Linked DNA regions of Homo sapiens. Changing the gene in region 1 together with any one later gene gives a genetic interaction. Each region holds a gene or a part of one and is shown in the gene's direction. Other genes may lie near its edges.

The links.
Region 2: changes in EED (region 1) and IGF1R together harm fitness less than expected from each alone (positive genetic interaction), as found in Homo sapiens cells (one large-scale study listed by BioGRID).
Region 3: changes in EED (region 1) and SEC24C together harm fitness less than expected from each alone (positive genetic interaction), as found in Homo sapiens cells (one large-scale study listed by BioGRID).

What each region holds. Positions count from the first base shown.
Region 1 is NC_000011.10:86,254,677-86,258,327, forward strand, and holds part of EED (polycomb protein EED), read left to right. Parts: intron 1-545; coding exon 546-611; intron 612-1,710; coding exon 1,711-1,836; intron 1,837-2,838; coding exon 2,839-2,920; intron 2,921-3,651. UniProt on the Homo sapiens protein: Polycomb group (PcG) protein. Component of the PRC2/EED-EZH2 complex, which methylates 'Lys-9' and 'Lys-27' of histone H3, leading to transcriptional repression of the affected target gene.
Region 2 is NC_000015.10:98,914,039-98,917,689, forward strand, and holds part of IGF1R (insulin-like growth factor 1 receptor isoform 1 precursor), read left to right. Parts: intron 1-1,925; coding exon 1,926-2,093; intron 2,094-2,633; coding exon 2,634-2,838; intron 2,839-3,651. UniProt on the Homo sapiens protein: Receptor tyrosine kinase which mediates actions of insulin-like growth factor 1 (IGF1). Binds IGF1 with high affinity and IGF2 and insulin (INS) with a lower affinity. The activated IGF1R is involved in cell growth and survival control.
Region 3 is NC_000010.11:73,764,804-73,768,454, forward strand, and holds part of SEC24C (protein transport protein Sec24C), read left to right. Parts: intron 1-647; coding exon 648-786; intron 787-996; coding exon 997-1,112; intron 1,113-1,282; coding exon 1,283-1,407; intron 1,408-1,546; coding exon 1,547-1,738; intron 1,739-1,956; coding exon 1,957-2,050; intron 2,051-2,250; coding exon 2,251-2,367; intron 2,368-3,033; coding exon 3,034-3,204; intron 3,205-3,651. UniProt on the Homo sapiens protein: Component of the coat protein complex II (COPII) which promotes the formation of transport vesicles from the endoplasmic reticulum (ER).

The sequences.
Region 1 (3,651 bases):
CAATGGTGCAATCTCGGCTCACTGCAACCTCCGCCTCCCGGGTTCAAGTGATTCACCAGCCTCAGCCTCCTGAGTAGCTGGGATTACGGGCATGTGCCACCACGCTCAGCTAATTTTTGTATTTTTGGTAGAGACAGGGTTTCACCATATTGGCCAGGATGGTCTTGATCTCTTGACCTCATGATCCGCATGCCTTGGCCTCCCAAAATGCTGGGATTACAGGCGTGAGCCACCGTGCCCGGCCTAATATTTATTTTTTAATAGAGATGGGGTTTTGCTATGTTGCCTAGGCAATTGAATGGATGAAATATAAGTTTAAAAGATTGGAAATCGAAACGACTATTACTGCAATATTTAATATGCTCTGTGTATTATGTAAAACATTCAGCTTTATAATGGCTTCTTTAAGCTCACAGGAGGTATTTTAAGGCAGTAGTTTCTGTAGTATATTTAAGATAGGATTGCGATTAAAATATGTTTAAAAGTTGGAGAGAGTATGTTTTCTATACTTGAGATGAAATTTACTGTATTTTTATTTTCATTAGGTTACCTTGTATGAATGTCATTCACAAGGAGAAATCCGGTTGTTGCAATCTTACGTGGATGCTGATGTATCCTTTCCTGGGTTTTTAATATCTTTAGTCAAAGGAATTTATTTTCAATAAGTGCACCAAAACTTTTATAAATTAATCATTTCCCTAAAGTTATTGTTCTTTCTTAACCGATTTCTTCACTATCACCCAAGAGAATCCTGTATCTAGTTTTCCTGACCCTTAGAAATCCATTGTGGTATGTGTCAACTCAGCTAGGCAAAAAGAAAAAGAAAAGAATCCATTGTGGGATGGATGTGCTGGTTGGGTGCAGATGTCTATAGAGATAGGAGCATTAGAAATCTAGTAATAGAAAATATTAGCAAAGACTGATTAAAACCTCCTTTTTCTTTGACCTTGCCTAGAATATATCATTTCATTGTAGTTATAATGATGAACTTGGCTTGTGACTGGTAGTCATTCTAAGTATTTGATCAACGAAGCCTAGGAAGAAAAAAAAAGTTTAGGAAAAATAAAATATATAAAAATAAAATAAAATAGGAAATAAAAATTGCAAAACAGGTTCATAAAGAAACAGAAAAATTTGAAAAGCCCGAGTTAGAGCGGTAAAAGCTAAGTAATAAGATATTTCTTCCAGATCCATTTGAAAAACCTAGCAAACAAGACAAGGCAAGGACATTCAGTCTTCTCTAAAAGATATTGAAATGTGACCTGTTGTTGTATTGAGACTGTCTCACAAAGAAAAAAGTGGAAAACTGAATTGTTCTTTTTTAGATATTTATAGAGGTATGGGGATAGAGCAGAGGTTAAACTACAGCGTGCAGGTTGGTCACCTGTTTTTGTAAAGTTTTGTTTTGAACACAACCATGCCCATTCATTTGTATATTTTCTGCAGTTATTTTGGTACTGCAACTACAGAGTTGAGTAGTTGTACAAGCAGCTAAAGAGTAAACAAAATTGAGTGGAGAGACTGTAATTTTGTTTGATCATTTGTTATGGATTTTAGACCTCAAATCACCATTGTATATATTTGGTTGTATAAGGAAAATTGAGAACTTTGGTGTCAAAAACTTTAGCAGTTCTTTATAAGTTTCTATTATAATTATTGACATGTTTCTTTTTCAAAAACATTATGTTTCTTAACTGTGGAATTTCTTAGGCTGATGAAAACTTTTACACTTGTGCATGGACCTATGATAGCAATACGAGCCATCCTCTGCTGGCTGTAGCTGGATCTAGAGGCATAATTAGGATAATAAATCCTATAACAATGCAGTGTATAAAGGTGGGTTTTTCTGGTTAAATTGTAGATCTGCTTCTTTTGAATCCACAACTGTAAAAACTTGTAATGTTAAATTTAAAACTAATGGTATGAATGTAACATTTCTCATTTGATTTGTACTTTTCTTACTGCTCTCTTTGGATGAGTCTTTTGAGACGTTTGTCACATTTGGGTAATGTAAATTAAGGAATAAGTGGGAAAATGTTAATATTTGTAGTGCTTTCTTTTTAAATCATTTCCCTCTTTCACCCTTGTCATGGTTTACTTTGAGAGGCTCTAAATGAACAATAAGAGGGAGTCCATTTTCCAAGACACCTAAACTGGAGGGGTGTTATCAAAGGGACCTTGTAACGAACATAAAGGTGAAGCCTAGGAAGTTGATAAGAAGACGGGTTTTTCAAATCACTTTCATCACCTGTTTTTAACTGTTGGGCTACATCACACTCTCCTGAGGATGCTTAAAACCCTACGCATATTGGAGCCTCCGCTAATCCGATCAGAATATCTGCAGGTGGAGTTTTGAGCATCTTTTTTTTTTTTTGTTCTGAGACAGATTCTGACTCCTTTGCCCGGGCTGGAATGTAGTAGCATGATTATAGCTCACTGCAGCCCGTCTCCTGGGCTCAAGCGATCCTCCTGCCTCAGCCTCTCAAGTAGCTGGGGCCAATTTTTAATTTGTGTGTGTGTGTGTGTGTGTGTGTGTGTGTGTATGAAGATAGGGTCTTGCTGCATTGCTCTGACTGGTCTTGAACTCCTGACCTCAAGCGATTCTGCCTTAGCTTTCCAAAGTGCTTGGATTAAAAACATGAGCCACCCACTGTGCCTGGGGTCTTTTTTTTTTTTTTTTTTCCTTTTCACCTCAAGTTTGTTGGGTGATTTTAGTATGCAGCCAAGGTTGAGAACCACTACTTTAAGTGAAACTATTTTTACATTCTCTAAAGATTTATGAAAAAAAATTTACTGATTTTGAGATAGGAAACTTGAAATGTTTTAAATTTATTGTAGCACTATGTTGGCCATGGAAATGCTATCAATGAGCTGAAATTCCATCCAAGAGATCCAAATCTTCTCCTGTCAGTAAGTAAAGGTAAGTGAAGCAAATGTTTCTTGAGTCTGTGCAATTTGTCAGAATTAAGATGGAGTCACTAATGTCAAGAAAACCCTGACAAATAGGAAAAACCATGAGAAGAGAGTCCACATGCTTGTATGTCTGATAATAAAAACTCACAAAAAAACACAACCACAACCTTGCACAAAGGCCATCACAGCCTTACACAGAAAATACTGGCAGTAAGTGCCTCTCCATCCTGAGACTGGCATCACCCTTGTTACTGATTTTGTGGCCAATCTTATTTCAAAACAATTATGTAATCCTTCTCATTTTTTTCTTTAAAAACCTCTGTCTTTCCTTTACGTCTCGGAGAACACACATAGTTTACTTTGGCATGTACATTCTCATTGCAGTGCATTATTTCCATATAAACATCTTTTATTTTAGAGAGCCTCTCTGTTACTTAGGTTGACAGGTCCTGTTTTATTTTAAGTCTAGTATCTGTTAGTTATTTTTCCTGATCTTCTTACTCCTCCCACCCTCTACCCTCCAGTAGGCCCCAGTGTATGGACAGATAGTGTTCTAAGGAAATAAAGCCAAATTAAAAAAAAGGTTATAACAGTACATTTTAGTAGGAAAATCCCAGGCTATGTTAGCATATCCAAATCATTTTGTCCAATCATGTAATAATAAATACTACATATGAAAATTCATATTGCTTTTTTATTTTTTAAAAAAGCTTTTGTTTTATAAAGGATTTCCTATAG
Region 2 (3,651 bases), on another chromosome or scaffold:
CGCTGGCAGATTTGGTGTCTGGTGAGGGCCCACTCCCTGGCTCATAGATGGCTGTCTTTTCATTGTGTCCTTGCATGGTGGCAGGGATGCGGGAGCACTCTCCGGGGCCTCTCATAGAAGGGCCTGGATTCCATTCATGAGGGCTTCACTCCCATGACCCAATCACCTCCCAAAGGCCATGCCTCCTAATTCCATCCCCTTAGGGGTTAGGATTTTGACATGTGAGTTTTGGTAGGGGACACAGGCATTCACTCTATAGCACTGATAAACATTCTTTGATAATAGCCATTATTTTAGTGGGTAAGGTGTTTTTAAATACCCATAAGCGAGCACAAAATCAGTTTAAATGGCAGAGAGGAGGGTGAGAAGAAAATGCTGGTGGGGAAAACCTTTTGCTGTGCACGCCTGCTCCTTCCTCCACTCCTACCCCATCTCCATGACCCTGTAAGTGGCCACAGTCATGTCACTGGGTAAAGTGCTTATTGAAACAAAATTGGCACAGGCTTCTGATCCTGCGTGTGGGTTGGTGTAGCAGAGGTTCAGTGCAACAGAAGAAGTTTTTCATCTTAAAATTTGGAAGTAACCCCTGGCCAGCAATTCACTGTAGTGTTTGGGAAACATAGGAATATCTGCTTATTGTGACAGATTCTCAAGAAACCTGTTTCCTTTCCACAAAGATGGAAACCAGGCACTGTACCAATGAGTCAGTTCACTACGTTTTGTCCTCTGTCCTTACACGCAGCGGAGACAGACGAGAACTTGGTCCTCTGCCTCTGCTGTTTGGTGACACCTATCGTAAGAATGTATCTAGGAATGAGCTGTTTGTTTTTGAAGTACTTATTTTTGGAAACCCTAAAGTGGCTGAGCATCAAGTGGTTGTGTTTTCTCTGAAAACGCCAGTATTAGTCATAACCTTTTTCCAAAGTATCATCCCTTAAAGATGTTCAGAACCTTGTGTGTATCGTATAACCTGGAGCACCCTCAAGCTGTCCGCCCTTTTCAAGTTTTAAAAATGGCTTAGGCAAACATATTGCTTAAGTGATATCCAGTGAAGGTGTCTCCTGTGCTTTGAAAAACCATCAACATTGATGCTTTTTTGTGACCCAATAAGGACAAGATTTCAGTGGTTCTGGGATGCATTTGATCTTTATGCACACTTCAGCTCTGGGTTTCAGTTCAGGGGTCAGCATAAGTAAAGCTTGATCAGATAACTATGCTTTGCCTATAATCGGCATTCATTCTGCTGGTGACAGAGTCCTTTGCTCAAAATGAGGCTTCCATGCGTTTGCAGTTCTAAACTGCTTTTCAGAGTCATGCCTCAGTCATTGTACTGAAGGATGCCTGTGGAAATGGTGGACTTCCGTGTTCTTTGCATTGCCTCTCCCCCATCCCTCTTACACACAGCTGTGACATGGGCATGCACACTCCTTCACACACACAGACTCTCCAGGCCCCTTTCCACTTCCTCTTTCCATTTGGCTTCATGACATTTTTATCAGAGATTCAAAATCTCAGATGAAATCCAAGTCAGCCTGTTTTACCAGTTGTCGAAATTGCCGGAGTGCAGCACTGTGGAGAATGGCAGTTGTAATAAATGAGAAATACCAGGTGTTTGAATTAGCTGTAGATTTTCACATTGTCTCTTCTAACCCTGCTTGTGCCCCCGCAGCCTTTTTCCATTTACAACTCAGTAATGTTTGTTTTCACAGAGATTACCGGAGGAAATAGATTATAAAGGGAAATGTTGGCATTTATAGTAGTACTATTTCAAAATAAGGTTCACTTTTCACTTTGTATTTCATTGTTCATTGTTATTTTCTTATCCAGGTCAAACTGGCAGTTTCCTGTTGGCTTGCCAGAGTATCTGATAGCCTGACTCTTAAGTTCATTTCATTTTCTAGAATGTTCTTTGTTCCCCTCTCCAGTTCCTTCCATTCCCTTGGACGTTCTTTCAGCATCGAACTCCTCTTCTCAGTTAATCGTGAAGTGGAACCCTCCCTCTCTGCCCAACGGCAACCTGAGTTACTACATTGTGCGCTGGCAGCGGCAGCCTCAGGACGGCTACCTTTACCGGCACAATTACTGCTCCAAAGGTAAGGGTGCAGCAGCGGCCTGGACGGAGGGTGTGACCGTTCATTCCTGTGGTTGTAATGTGCCTGAGCCCTAATATTACACGTATCAGACAACAGTGTAGTTCTCCATTGGAAACCAGCTATCTTCTGGTTTTTTTTTTTTTTTTTTGAGACAGAGTCTCACTCTGTTGCCCAGGCTGGAGTGCAGTGGCACGATCATGGCTCACTGCAATTTCTGCCTCCCAGGTTCAAGCATTTCTCATTCCCCAGCATTCCGAGTAGCTGGGATTACAGGCATGCACCACCATGCCCAGCTAATTTTTGTATTTTTAGTAGAGACGGGGTTTCACCATGTTGCCCAGGCTGGTCTGAAACTCCTAACCTCAGGTGATTTGCCCGCCTCGGCCTCCCAAAGTGCTGGGATTATAGCCTTGAGCCACCACATCTGGCCGAGACCAGCTATCTTCTTGATTAAAGGTACTGAGAGCTATTATTTTTCCTTACAAGCATGTATAACGGCTTTCATTCCCACTCTTGTTTTGGCTTTTCTTTTCCGAGAAGACAAAATCCCCATCAGGAAGTATGCCGACGGCACCATCGACATTGAGGAGGTCACAGAGAACCCCAAGACTGAGGTGTGTGGTGGGGAGAAAGGGCCTTGCTGCGCCTGCCCCAAAACTGAAGCCGAGAAGCAGGCCGAGAAGGAGGAGGCTGAATACCGCAAAGTCTTTGAGAATTTCCTGCACAACTCCATCTTCGTGCCCAGGTACCCAGCTCATGTGAAATTTCAGTTGGCAAAACCCACTGCTCAGGCCGGTTCTGTTGCCTTTCTCCCCACCAGGTAGTGTGTAAGTCAGCAGCTGGGGGGTACAATACAGTAGCCACTGAGACGGAGCCGAAAAAGATGACAGGTTCGGTGAAGTGAGTCCCTGCGGAAGCCAGTCAGCCCTGAAGGGAACAGGGACCAGGGCTTGGGTTGCTGGGGCCACCGGTGTGACAGGTACTGCTGTCTCAGCCACAACCCCCCACAGAGAGCAGGTGGGCACCCTGTGGTAGAGGCAGGGAGGGGAAACTCAAAGAGTATTGACAGCTGCTGCCTGGTGAGAGGAAAGGCCAGGATTTGGGTCCATCTCTGCCCTTCCTAATTATCTTTACTGCCTCTCTCAGCCTCACAGAGGAGGAGTGAAGCAAGAGGGAAAAAAGTCAGAGTCTGTGCTGGAAAGGGCCTGACTTCAAAACATAGCCAGGTGCCACAGGCATCCTGTACAAGTAAGTTTGGGAAGCAGTGTAGGGCGACAGCCTGCATTGGCTGTTTATTCCGTGGTTACTCTGTCTTTCAAAGCAACACAGCCCCTGCCCCAGGGACTCTGCTCCTCTGCTGTGGTCTTGGTTTCTGGGGAGTGGGGACAAAAGCAGAGGAAAGTAAACGTTCATAGCAGGACTGTTCATAGTAGCCAAATCTGGAAACCCAGTGTACATCAACAGGTGAGTGGCTCAATAAAATGGGCTCGAACCTTACAGTAGAATATTATTCAGCCATAAAAAGGGAGGAAATTTTGATCCATGTCACAACACAGAT
Region 3 (3,651 bases), on another chromosome or scaffold:
CAGGCCTTGGTAGGATACTCATATTCAGCCTTGCTTATCTTACGATAGGGTTCTCTGTTACTAGAAGCCAAAGGCTCAGTTTATATTCTGCTTATCTCTCCGTCTTTCTCTGTGTGTTTGTCTATTTCTATCTGGGTCCCATTGGGGATAGTTGGGCACTGGTCTCTTATGTGTAGGGTGACATTTGCCTGGGGCATCAGTAACTGGCACAGAATCCCAGGGATACGGGAGGAGGTGTTACAGATATTTGGTTAGGGAAGGAGCTGGAATCAAGATTCTTAGAGCAAGAGTGAAGGGCATTAGAGATGGGGCCAGAAAGGAGAATCCTAGATAATCTTGGCTTTCTCCCTCATATGCCCATGGCAGCCCCTAGTCTGATATGGCCGGTTTTGCATTTCCTCTTCTCTTTCAGTGAGAAATGCAGCTCTGGGGGTGGGATGTAGGAAGAGGGAACTATATAATTTTTACTCATAGGGACATTTTCCTGTGATTTGTCTTTACTCCCTTTCATCATTGTGCTCCCTACTCCCTCTGCAGACAGAATATCTGCGCCATGCGCCTTCTTCCTCCGGTTGTTCTTCCTCATCTCCTGGCTGAACCTACTGTGGTTTTCCTTTATGTCTGATCCCTTCCCCTTTGCGCCTTAGGCTTCACCGTATGTTGTGGACCATGGGGAATCTGGCCCTTTGCGCTGCAACCGCTGCAAAGCATACATGTGTCCCTTCATGCAGTTCATTGAAGGAGGGAGGCGTTTCCAGTGCTGTTTTTGCAGCTGTATCAATGATGGTATGTTCATGGAAGCTGGGATTTGGGGGAAGGTCTTGATTGTATCTTCCTTGTTCTCTATTAAATAGTTAGAGAGATGAGGGTCCATCTTTCAGGAGCTGGGGAAGTAGGGCACATGGGAATGAGGGATAGTGGTGTGAGCTCAGCTAGGGCCAGAATACTAAGATTGAAACTGGATCTTCGAGTAACACACTGCCATGCTTCCCACAGTTCCCCCCCAGTATTTTCAGCACCTGGATCATACCGGCAAACGTGTGGATGCTTATGACCGCCCTGAGCTATCCCTGGGCTCTTATGAATTCTTGGCCACTGTAGATTACTGCAAGGTGAGGGAAGGTAGCATGGGAGGAGCAGTGAGTGGAGGATAATGAGACAGCTGAGAATGGCTGTTATCATTTCCCTCACCCCTTTTTTGTCCCTTTTTGATGCTGACTTCTCTATAGTCAACTGGCCTGCTTACCATTCCCCCTCTCCCCAACATTTTCTTCCTCTGCAGAACAATAAGTTCCCCAGCCCTCCTGCCTTTATCTTCATGATTGACGTCTCCTACAATGCCATCAGGACTGGTCTTGTTAGGCTCCTCTGTGAGGAGCTCAAGTCACTGTTAGACTTTCTACCTAGGTGAGAGTTACAGAACTGAGGTGTTTCCTGAGGTTAATGATAGGGTGTCTGGGTTGACTGAAGAAATGTAGCTTGGTGTCATGAAGTTGTGGGTGGTGGAAAAGGTGGCAAGTCTAGGTAACAATGTCACCTTCTACAGGGAGGGTGGGGCAGAAGAGTCAGCAATCCGCGTTGGCTTTGTCACCTACAATAAGGTGCTCCACTTCTATAATGTGAAGAGCTCATTGGCCCAGCCACAGATGATGGTTGTGTCTGATGTGGCTGACATGTTTGTGCCACTGCTGGATGGCTTCCTGGTCAACGTCAATGAGTCTCGGGCAGTTATCACCAGGTAAGAGCCAGATTGTGGAGGTAAAGGTTGGGGGTGGCATGGGTACCACCATAGAAGGTCATGGAGTTGAACAGAGGTATTGGACAGTAGATGGAAAGGGGTTGTGGCCCAGGAGTTGTCAGATTCTAGAGGCTTGATGACTCTTCAGGGAATCGAGAACTGAGGTATCTGGAATCTGTATAGCAATTTTGGTTGTTTTCCGTCACCTATCTCTTTAGCTTATTGGATCAGATTCCAGAAATGTTTGCAGACACAAGGGAAACAGAGACAGTATTTGTACCAGTTATCCAGGCTGGAATGGAGGCTCTGAAGGTAAGGCTGGAGTATCGGGCAACCTCCTCTAACTCCATTTTCCTCTGACCATCTTATCCCCTGGGATACAACCTCTCTTTCTTCAGTAGTGGGTGACTGTCCAGTGTGTTAGACTGTCTGACATAGCTGGTGCTTAATAAATGACAAGGGAAGAGATGGATGAATAAAGAATAAACAAGTAGTCCTCTCTTTTTTCCTAGGCTGCTGAGTGTGCAGGGAAGCTCTTTCTATTCCATACATCCCTGCCCATTGCAGAGGCCCCAGGGAAACTGAAGAACAGAGATGACAGGAAGCTGATCAATACAGACAAGGAGAAGGTGTGGGACTGGAAAATGGGGGAGGGGAAGGATTTTTCATTACAGAGGAAGTGGGGACTCTACTTTCTTGATGGTGGCTAGGACCAGACACTCCACCCTTTCAAATACCATATCTGTGACTGCCAACCTCCACTGCTGCCATACTTCTCTACTCCATCTGATGCCAAAGCTGTTGGTAGACTCTTGTATTTATTTATTTTTTAAAGAAGAACTTTTGGCCGGGCATGATGGCTCATGCCTGTAATCCGAGCGCTTTGGGAGGCCAAGGCGGGCAGATTTTTGAGGCCAGAAGTTTGAGACCAGCCTGACTAACATGGCAAAACCCCGTCTCTACTAAAAATACAAAAATTAGCCAGGTGTGGTGGCACACACCTGTAATCCCAGCTACTTGGGAGTCTGAGGCAGGAGAATCGCTTGAACCTGGGAGGCAGAGGTTGCAGTGAGCTGAGATCATGCCACTCTATGCCAGCCTGGGTGACAGAGTGAGACCCTGTCTCAAAAAAATAAAAATAATATAAAAGAAAATTTTTTACTATTGGAAAATCCTTGGAAGTAGATCTGAAGTCTTCCATGAATTTGAATATCCCATGCTAGATATACAGTTTTCAAATAGGGCGGAGCTGAGATATTTGAACATTTTCTTCTCCCCATTTTCTTTCCCCCTAGACTCTGTTCCAGCCTCAGACAGGTGCCTATCAGACCCTGGCCAAAGAGTGTGTGGCCCAAGGCTGCTGTGTAGATCTCTTTCTCTTCCCTAACCAGTATGTGGATGTGGCCACACTCTCTGTTGTGCCCCAGCTCACTGGTGGCTCTGTCTACAAATATGCTTCCTTTCAGGTATGGTGTGGGATTTGGGGCAGCAGGTGGCAGCAGGGCTGGGAATATCTGCTTATATATGCAGTGGCTGACTCATTAATAGAAATAGTGTTGGGGCCAGGCACGGTGCCTCACACCTGTAATCCTAGCACTTTGGGAGGCTGAGGCAGGCAGATCACCTGAGGTCAGGAGTTCAAGACCAGCCTGGCCAACATGGCAAAACCCCATCTCTACGAAAAATACAAAAATTAGTCGGGTGTGGTGGCGGGCGCCTGTAATCCCAGCTACTCAGGAAGCTAAGAATCCCTTGAACCCGGGAGGTGGAGGTTGTGGTGAGCCGAGATTGCGCCACTGCACTCCAGCCAGAGCGACAGAGTAAGACTCCGTCTCCAAAAAAGAAGAAATAGTGTTGGAAGAGAAGACTGCATAGTCTGAAGAAGTGAGCCCGAGAATGTGGCAGTTAGGAAC